Homo sapiens: one gene and its partner. The protein of the gene in region 2 purifies or fractionates together with the protein of the main gene of each other region. This does not show direct contact. Each region holds a gene or a part of one and is shown on either strand. Other genes may lie near its edges.

Region 1 (5,003 bases), on a different chromosome or scaffold from region 2:
GAGCTGAGATAGCACCACTGCACTCCAGCCTGGGTAACAGAGTGAGGCTCCATCACAAAAATAAATAAATAACCTAAAATAAAATAAGTAAACTCAGTTGCAGATAGTACAATGTTCTATCCCCAAATACTTAGCATACATTTCCAAAGAGTAAGGATTTTCTTTTACACAACCATAATCTGTTATCACAACCAAGAGTTTGACAATGATGATAATTTTATCTAACATATTGGCCTCAATTATCCCCCAAATGTGTGTGTGTGTTTTTTAAAGTCCAGAGTTCAATCAAGGATCAGCCATTATGTTTGGATTTGTCATACTGTGATAGTTTAAAAAATATACAAATTAAAAGAAAAGTTATAGACACATATTTTCTTATGCTTTGCAGATATTGTGTTTTTTTTTTTTTTTTTTTTTTTTTTTTTTTTTTACAAATTGCAGTTTCGTGGCAACCCTGCATTAATTCGAGCCATTTTTCCAATTGCATGTGCTCACTTTGTCTCTGGGTCACATTTTGGTAATTCTTGGAATATTTCAGACCTTTCCATTATTATTGTATCTGTTACGGTGATCTGTGATGAGTGATCTTTCATGGTTTTATTATAATTGTTTTGGGGTACCACAAACCACACCCAGAAAAGAAGGTCAACTTAATCGAAAAATGTTGTGTGTTCTGACTGCTCTGCCCTTCTCTCATCTCTCTCCCTCTCTGTGGGCCTCCATATTCCCTGAGACACATTTACATTGAAATTAGGCCAACTATTAACCCTACAATGGCTTGTAAGTGTTTAAGCAAAAGGAAGAGTCACACATCTTTCACTTTAAATCAAAAGCTAGAAACAATTAAGCTTAGTGAGGAAGGCATGTTGAAAGCTGAGGCAGGCTGAAAGTTAGACCATGTGCACCAGTTAGCCAAATTGTGAATGCAAAGGAAAAATTCTTGAAGGAAATTAAAAGTGCTACTTCTCTGAACATATAAATGATAAGAAAGCAAAAGAGGTTTATTGTTAATATGGAGAGAAAGTTCTTATGTTCTGGACAGAAGATCAAACTAGCCACAACATTCCCTTAAGCCAAAGCCTAATCAGTAAAAGGCCCTAATTTTTAATTCTTTGAAGGCTGAGAGAGGTGAAGAAGCTCCGGAAAAGTTGGAAGCTAGCAGTGGTTGGTTCATGAGGTTTAAGAAGCCACCTCTGTAACATAAAAGTGCAAGATGAAGCAGCGAGTGCTGATGTAGAAGCTGCAGCCAGTTATCCAGAAGATCTAGCTAAGATCATTGATGAAGGTGGCTACAGCAAACAACAGATTTTCAATGTAGATGAAACAACCTTCTAGTGGAAGAAGATGCCATGTAGGGCTTTAATAGCTAGAGAGGAGAAGTCAATGCCTGGCTTCAAAACTTCAAAGGACAGGCTTATTCTCTTGTTAGGGGCTAATGCAGCCAGTGACTTTAAGTTGAAGCCAATGCTCATTTACCATTCTGAAAATTCTAGGGCCCTCAGATTTACGCTAAATCTACTCTGCCTGTGCTCTGCAAATGGAACAACAAAGCCTGAATAACAGCACATCTGTTTATAGCATGGTTTACTGAATATTTTAAGCTCACCGTTGATAGCTACTGCTCAGAAAAAGATTCCTTTCAAACTGTTACTGCTCATTGACAATGCACCTGGTCACTCAAAAGCTCTGATGGAGATGTACAAGGAGATTAATGTTGTTTTCATGCCTGCTAACACAACATCCATTCTGCAGCCCATGGATCGGGGGTAATTCTGACTTCCAAGACTTATTATTTAAGAAATACATTTTGTAAGGCTATAGCTGCCATGGATAGTGATTCCTCTGATGGATCTCGGCAAAGTTAACTGAAAACCTTCTGTAAAGGATGCACCATTTTAGATGCCATTAAGAATATTTGTGATTCATGGGAGGAGGTCAAAATATCTACATTAACAGGAGTCTGGAAGAAGTTGATTCCAACCCTCATGGATGACGTGGAAGGGTTCAAGACTGCATCAGAGGAAGGAACTGCAGATGTGGTGGAAATAGCAAGAGAACTAGAAGCGGAGCTGGAAGATGGGACTGAATTGCTACAATCTCACGATAAAATGTAGATGGCTGAGGAGCTGGTTCTTACGGATAAGCAAAGAAAGTGGTTTCTTGGGATGGAATCTATTTCTGGTGAAGATGCCATGAATATTGTTGAAATCACAACACGGGATTCAGAATATTATAGGTACTTAGTAGAGTAAGCAGTGGTAGAGTTTGATAGGATTGACTCCAATTTTGAAAGAAGTTCTACTGTGGGTAAATGCTATCAAACAGGATTGCATGCTACAGAGAAATCTCTTGTGAAAGGAAGAGTCAACTGATGTGGCAAACTTCACTGCTGTCTTATTTGAAAAAACTGCCACAGCCACCCCAGCCTTCAGCAACACCACCCTAAGTCAGCCACCATCAATGTTGAGGCAAGATCCTCCACCAGCAAAAAGATTACAAGTTGTAAAGGCTCAGATGATTGTCAGCATTTTTTTAGCAATAAAGTATTTTAAAATTAAGATACGTATATATATTTTAAAACATAATGCTATTGCTCAGTTAATAGACTTCCATTAGATGATCATTATAATGTAAACCTAACTTTTATATGCACTGGGAAACCAAAAAATTCATGTGACTCACTTTATTATAATATTCACTTTATTGTGTGGTGGCCTGGAACCAGACCCACAATATCTCTGAGGCGTGCCTGTACTTAGTTTAAAACTGACTTTCATATGGTCTCTATTCAGACTGTTCATGAATGATGCTCCTCTATTTTAAAGACTATCAGAATCTGGCTGTGTGTGGTGGCTCATGCCTGCAATCCCAATATTTTGGGGGGCTGAGGTGTGGGGATCAGTTGAGGCCAGGAATTTGAGACCAGCCTGAGCAACACAGTGAAACCGCATCTCAATACAAAAAATTAGCCAGGCATGATGGCACATGCCTGTAGTCCCAGGTACTTGGGAGGCTGAGGCACAAGAATCGCTTGAACCTGGGAGGCTGAGGTTGCAGTGAGCTGAGATCACACCACAGCCCTCTAGCCTCAATGACACAGCGAGGGAAAAAAAAAAAAAAAGGAAAAAAGACAGAGCAAGAGTCTGTCTAAAAAAAGAAAGAAAGAAGCCAAACTTAAATGGTTAGCAGCAAATCTCTGGGTAGTTTTGAAGAAAAGACGGTTTAAGAAAGAGAAGTTATTTTGATGATAGTTCCTAAGAAGGAAGGTTTTGTTGTCATTGTTGTTGTTGTTGTTTTTAATATAGAGAAAAGGTCTCGCTGTGTTGCCCAGCCTTCTCTCAAACTAGCTCAAACTAGAATCAAAAACTAGCTCACTGAAGAACATTTTGGCAGTTTGGTCTTTATGTGTATGAAACACTGGTAAATAAATCATAGTATTTTGGCAACCTGATACTTTAGTGTTGAGAAATTTTGATGACATCTGATATAGTTGGTAAGTTTGTCCCCTCTAAGTCCCATGTTGAAATGTGATCACCAGTGTTCCAGGTGGGGCCTGGTGTGAGGTGTTTGGGTCATGAGGGTGGATCCCTTATGAATGGCTTGGTGCCCTCCCTGTGGCAGTGAGTGAGTTCTCACTCTATTACTTCATGCCAGAACTAGTTGTTTAAAAGAGACTGGTATCTCTCTCTTGCTTCCTGTCTTGCCATGTGACACACTTGCTCCCTTTTTCCTTCTGCCATGATTGTAAGCTTCCTGAGGCCTCATCAGAAGCAGATACTGGCACCATGCTTCTTGTACAGTCTGCAGTATCGTAAGCCAAAACAAACTTCTTTTCTTTATAAATTGCCCAGCTCAGATATTCCTTTATAGCAATGCAAAACAGACTAATACAACATCAGTGTAAAACGCAGAACCATGGGAGATCATAAAAATTAGCATTTCCCAATCATGTGGGAATATTAACCTTAATAAACAAAGACAAATATTTTAATTAAAGCTTTGTAATTAAAGAGTGTGTGTGAAATATATTACGAATATAATGTAATTATACACTTTCACATAAAACCCAATATTCTACCACTTGAATTTAGACATCTGGATCTCAGATTTTCTTGACATTGCAGTTAAGAAGAAAATAATATAGGTTTTTATTTTATTTTTTTAAAGGATGTATGTTATAAAGTGGCAACTGGTCATTTCACCAGAATTAGTATTTTAAATAAGGAGCAGCATTTAATATTTCCCAACTCGTAAAAAATAATTACTTTTTGTCAGCTGAAAAGGGGACAGGTGGGTGTGTAAATTAAGTGTTGTAGTTGTTGGCATATTAGCTGCCTACGTCTCTGTTGGAAATCAACAAGGCAGAAGAGCATGCCAGGGAAAAAGCCTGGGGAGAGGAGCAGACTGTGGCTAGTGAAGAGCAGATAGAAGCAGAGAGAACTAGGAGTAGCAGAAACGAATGAGAAGGGCAGGGATAGAGCCACCCCCACCCGCCCTTTGCAAGGTGTGCTCCAGGTGTGTGGCACGTGGCAAAGAGTCCTCACATTTACACTGCCCTTGAGAAATGCATTCTAAAAGCAGATGGAGTTTGTGCTGAATGTGTTCCAAGGCGCCCCCCCCGGCCCCCCTGCTTTAATCCCCTCTCACCTTGTCCCACACCTCCTCAGTGACATCCATTATGCTTCCAAAGAAAGGGTTGACAGCAGCATTGGAGACTAGGATATCGATACCTCCATGAAGCTTCACAGCCTAGAGAGAGGGGTAAGTTCTGGACCAGGGCTGCAGTAAGTAAGGGAGGTGCATTTACCCATGTTGATAAAAACTTCCTTCTGGGCAAGGAGCTGTGGCTCATGCCTGTAATCATGGCACTTTGGGAGGCCAAGGTGGGAGGCTCACTTGAGCTGAGGAGTTTGAGAGAAGCCTGGGCCATGCAGCGAGACCTTATCTTTATATTAAAAACAACAACAACAATGACAACAAAATCTTCCTACTTAGGAACTATC
Region 2 (5,003 bases):
AATTGTTGCCCTCCTTCAAGGAGTCCCACATGGTTCACCATGCCATGCACACCCCCCCACAGGAAGCGGGAAAGGGCACCCCCTTACCCTTTAAGGCCGGTCATTGCACACAATTACACGTCTCACTTTTGCTCATCCCCATGGCCCGTAATCTAGCTCATGGTCATACCCAGGCTGCAAGGGAGGCTAGGGAGTGCAGTCTATCATGGGCCCCTAGAAGCCCAGCTAAAATTTCTATTACTCTGGATGAAGGTGAGAAGGGGTGTTGGAGATTACTAGCAACTCCACGAAAGCACTGACAAGGATCAGAGTTGATACCCAGTCACCTTCCCAAGTGATGGTCCACACACAGTTGGAACCAGGATAGTATTTCTTGCATGCCTGCATTGATTCATTCAACAAATACTTGACTGAAAATAAGGAAGTAGAAAAATGCAGTCACCATCTTCATAAAGCTCTAACCCAGGTTGGTGCCTACTAAGTGATCATTAGTCTAGGTGTGGTGTACAGAGTAAGTGGGGACTGGGGAGGACAGTAATTCAGATGAGAGAGAGAGTGGATGATTGCAGGGAAAGATGGGAGACAGAAGAGGCTCCTAGCTCTAGTGCCTTCTGGGAAAAGACCAGACCCAGAAATTAAAAGTCAAGAGTGTAACTGTAGTTGAACTAATGAAACTGAGGGTCCAACCCATAGCTTTGTGAGAGGCACAAATGTAATTTTTTATTTTTCAAAATAACATTAATATAATTTCTTCTATATTCCTTGTGCAAATCCTCAACCTTCTACATTAAAGAAGAGGCTAAATAGGAGGTATAAACTTGCTAAAATTTCTTATTAAAAAATAGTGCCAAGCGGCCGTGTGCAGTGACTCACACCTGTAATCCCAGCACTTTGGGAGGCCGAGGTGGGCGAATCACAAGGTCAGGAAATCGAGACCATCCTGGCTAACATGGTGAAACCCCGTCTCTACTAAAATACAAAAAATTACCCGGGCATGGTAGTGGGTGCCTGTAGTCCCAGCTACTCGGGAGGCTGAGGCAGGAGAATGGTGCGAACCCGGGAGGCAGAGCTTGCAGTGAGCCAAGATCGCGCCACTGCACTCCAGCCTGGGCGACAGAGCGAGACTCTATCTCAAAAAAAAAAAAAAAGAAAAAAAAAATAGTGCCAACCTAGGTGGTGACCACGTCTCTAATCCCAGCTATTCAGAAGGCTGAGGCAGGAGGACCACTTAAGCCTAGAAGTTCGAGTCCAGCCTGGGCAACATTCATGAGACTGTATCTCTATAAACAAACAAACAAACAAACAAATAAAACAGAAATAGTGGCACAACTTACTTTGCTACGTATTTGGGAGAACGCATATTAGTTAATCAAAATCATTTGCTGAAGGTTGTCTACATGCTGTATAAACAAGCTAGATAGACTCTACCTACATCAAATATGCAAAACTAGTGAAATAATTACAGAAGAGTAACCATTTGCTTCCAGGCTGGCTTCTTCTTCCCTGGAGAGCAAATTGGAGTTTATCCTAACCTGACACCTTTATGATCTTCTGATCATTTTATTCCTGGAATAGTTGTACTCCACATTTTGAAAAGTTAAAATGAAAATTATAGAACCCTCAACAAAGTTTGGTTGATGGAATTTCGATTTGACTGCTTCCGGCCACTTCTGAGTTTAGCAAAGGAGGCTCGTGTATATTCTTCATGGAATTTGGCTCCAAGAAAACTCAACTCAATTTCCTGGAATGGAGCGAATTTGTGACTTCGAAGGGAAGCATCTGCATTTCCTTTCCCAAAAATACTCCATTTGCATTAGACTGCTCCCTGTGACATTTCCACCAGATGGCAATACAGTCTTTGGATGACAGAGAGTCTTGCTGGTTTTCAAAATCTCTAGAAATATTTGTGTAGGCACTATAAAAAAGCATTTTTTATAAATGAAAAGCTCCCATAACTGCCCCCCATTCTAAAGCAACCATCTTTATTTGCATATATTCACTTTGAGTTTTTGTCAATATTCATACAGTCGTAAGTACATTTATAATGTGCATGGCATTTTAGTCTACTATCAAAATTCAGCACAATGTATATCATTTACATATTTCTACATGACCTTCATAATTATTGCAGCAGTTACATACTATTACACATAGTAAACCTTTCCCCTATTGTTACATAGTATGTAGTATGCACGTTTTCACCTGTTATAGATAATGCTGCAGGTAATGGCACACAATTGGCACACAGTTTTGGAACATTAGGAAGAATTTTAGGGATAGCAATACAGGGTGAAAGACATAGATGTCTTTTGCTCTTTAACTTTTCCAGAAAGATGTGCAGATTTACATGGCTATCAGCACTGTGAGAGGATCTGGGTTCTGACCAGTTGCACTATGCCCACGTTTTTGTTTTACTTCATTTTTTTAAATCCTAAAAGTCAGGTACAGGGTCTTTAGCCTGTAATACTAGCACTTTGGGAGACTGGCGGGAGGATTACTTGAGCTCAGGATTTCAAGACCAGCCTGGGCAACAGAGTGAGACCCAGTCTCTCCAAAGAAAAAAAAAAAAAGAAAGAAAGAAAAATAGGCAATGGCTCATGCCTGTAATCCCAGCACTTTGGGAGGCCAAGACAGGCAGATCACCTGAGGTCAAGAGTTTGAGACCAGCCTGGCCAGCATGGTGAAACCCCGTCTCTACTAAAAATACAAAAATTAGCTAGGCGTGGTGGTGGCGCCTGTAGTCCCAGCTACTTGAGAAGCCGAATTGCTTGAACCTGGGAGGCAGAGGCAGCAGTGAGCAGAGATCGGCCATTGCACTCCAGCTTGGGCCACAAGGGCGAAACTGCATCTCGAAAACAAAACAAAACAAAACCAAACCCAGGTGTGGTGGTGCATGCCTGTAGTCCCAGCTACTTGGGAGGTTGAAGCAAGAGAATCGCTTGAGCTGGGAGGTTGAGACTACAGTGAGCTGTGATTGCATGACTGTACTTCAGCCTGCGTGATGGAGCAAGACCTTGTCTCCAAAAATTATATATAAGGAAAGGACTTGAAAATGCATTTCTCCCGAACTAGGTGATGTTTCCGTGTGTGTGGCCCTTCTTCACAGTGGCCTCCTAGAAAAACAAGACCCTGACTCAAAGAACACCTCTCACTACAGTAAGACTTCTTGGAATGCTTTACTTTTTTAAAAATTTAATTTAATTGTTTAATGTGGTAAAAAATATATAACATAAAACGTAAAACTAACCAGCTTAACCATCTTAAGGGCACAATTCAGTGGCATTATGTACGTTCTCTTTGTTGTGCAACCATCACCACCACCCATCTCCAGAACTCTTTTAAAATCTTCCCAAACAGAAACTCTGTACCCATCAAACAACTCCCATTTCCTTCTCTCTTCACCTCTGGCAACCTCCATCCTACTTTTTCTTTATATGAGTTTGACGGCTCTAGGAACCTCTTATAGGTGAAATTATCCAGGTCTGTCTTTTTGTGACTAGCTGGTTTCACTTCGCATAATGTTCTCGAGGTCCATTCATGTTGTAACATGTGTCAGAATTTCTTCTCTTTCTAAGGCTGAAGAATATTCCATTGTATGGACCTACCACATTGCATGTATCTATTTATCCACTGAGGGACCCTTGGGTTGCTATGGAAAATAATGCAACTACGAACATGGACATCTGTTCCAGTCCTTGCTTTCAATTATTTTGTGTAGATGCACAGCAGTGGAATTGCTGGATCAGATGGTAATGCTATGTTTGCTTCACTACTTGGAATGTGCCTTTATGCATATCGTGATAAAATTTGATCTGTACGACAGTCCTGTGAGATAAGTAAGCATTGATCTCTGGTTCAGAAAAGTGATTTCTTCAAAGTGAAATGATGAACGGAAGAGTATCCTGACCTTAAACTTGGCTTTTTAAATTGCCCGTTCACCTTGAAGAGTGGTTCCAATCACAAGTGTTACCTTCCAAGGACAGTGTCATTCTGGTTATAATCAGCTTGCTCCCCTGCCCTGAGCCTTCTGTCCAAGTTTGTGCAGGTGTGGGTCTGGGGCAGGGGACAGCTCATCCATTTCCCACTGCACGGAACAGAGGCTGTGTCCAGGGCCCCAGCAACAAAGATTTCTCCTTTGGGTTTCTGTTTCCCTCTTTCAGTTCAGAGTCTGTCATCTGAACCATGAGGATCTGGTGGCTTCTGCTTGCCATTGAAATCTGCACAGGGAACATAAACTCACAGGACACCTGCAGGCAAGGGCACCCTGGAATCCCTGGGAACCCCGGTCACAATGGTCTGCCTGGAAGAGATGGACGAGACGGAGCGAAGGGTGACAAAGGCGATGCAGGTACTCACCTGACGGCTTCGGCTGCCTTTCAACTTCTCTCTTCATTCCTTTCATCTCATTCACTCATCATCTGTGTGATTTTCCACCTACCCACTCACACCCCATCCATCCATACATACATCAACCCAGCAACACTCACTGGAGCCTGACCCCATTCATCCATCCACCCATCTGCCCAGCAACACTCACGGGGTCTGCTCCATGCCAGACTCTGTGCCAGGTGCTGGTGGAGAGCACAGGGCAAGATCGCCATGACCCCTGCCCTCCTGGGTTCTCTCATCTCTGACACCGCAGAACATTTTCAGTAGTATACGATGTCATGGATCCTCCCATCTCAGGTGACAGGTATGATGGATTTTTGGCAACAAAAGGCTAATAGAGAGATCTGATCACGAATTATTTGGCAGCAAGCACCCAGCTGCAGTGCAGGTGAGAGCTAATACCGCATCATGCCATGAAGCAGGAGATGCGGAGTGACAGATGACACAAAAGGAGACGAGAATCTGAAACCATACAGCTGCTGCTTATGCATCTATATGACCTAGGTTGGGACCCTGTCCCAGGGTCTGGGGATCTGGGGGACAGGATTCAGCCTCTGGGAGGGAGATTTGCCAAAGCTGAGAAGTCCGAGTGGTTTCCATAACAACAACCAATA

What was found.
Region 1: the proteins of C1QTNF9 (region 2) and DHRS4 purify together in Homo sapiens (affinity purification with mass spectrometry; 3 studies listed by BioGRID and IntAct, with this or other methods). This does not show direct contact.

The regions. Positions count from the first base shown.
Region 1 is NC_000014.9:23,959,648-23,964,650, reverse strand, and holds part of DHRS4 (dehydrogenase/reductase SDR family member 4), read right to left. Parts: intron 4,750-5,003; coding exon 4,648-4,749; intron 74-4,647; coding exon of another isoform or gene 53-73; exon of another isoform or gene 1-52. UniProt on the Homo sapiens protein: NADPH-dependent oxidoreductase which catalyzes the reduction of a variety of compounds bearing carbonyl groups including ketosteroids, alpha-dicarbonyl compounds, aldehydes, aromatic ketones and quinones.
Region 2 is NC_000013.11:24,311,822-24,316,824, forward strand, and holds part of C1QTNF9 (complement C1q and tumor necrosis factor-related protein 9A precursor), read left to right. Parts: intron 1-3,072; exon of another isoform or gene 3,073-3,156; intron 3,157-4,160; 5' UTR 4,161-4,182; coding exon 4,183-4,348; intron 4,349-5,003. UniProt on the Homo sapiens protein: Probable adipokine. Activates AMPK, AKT, and p44/42 MAPK signaling pathways.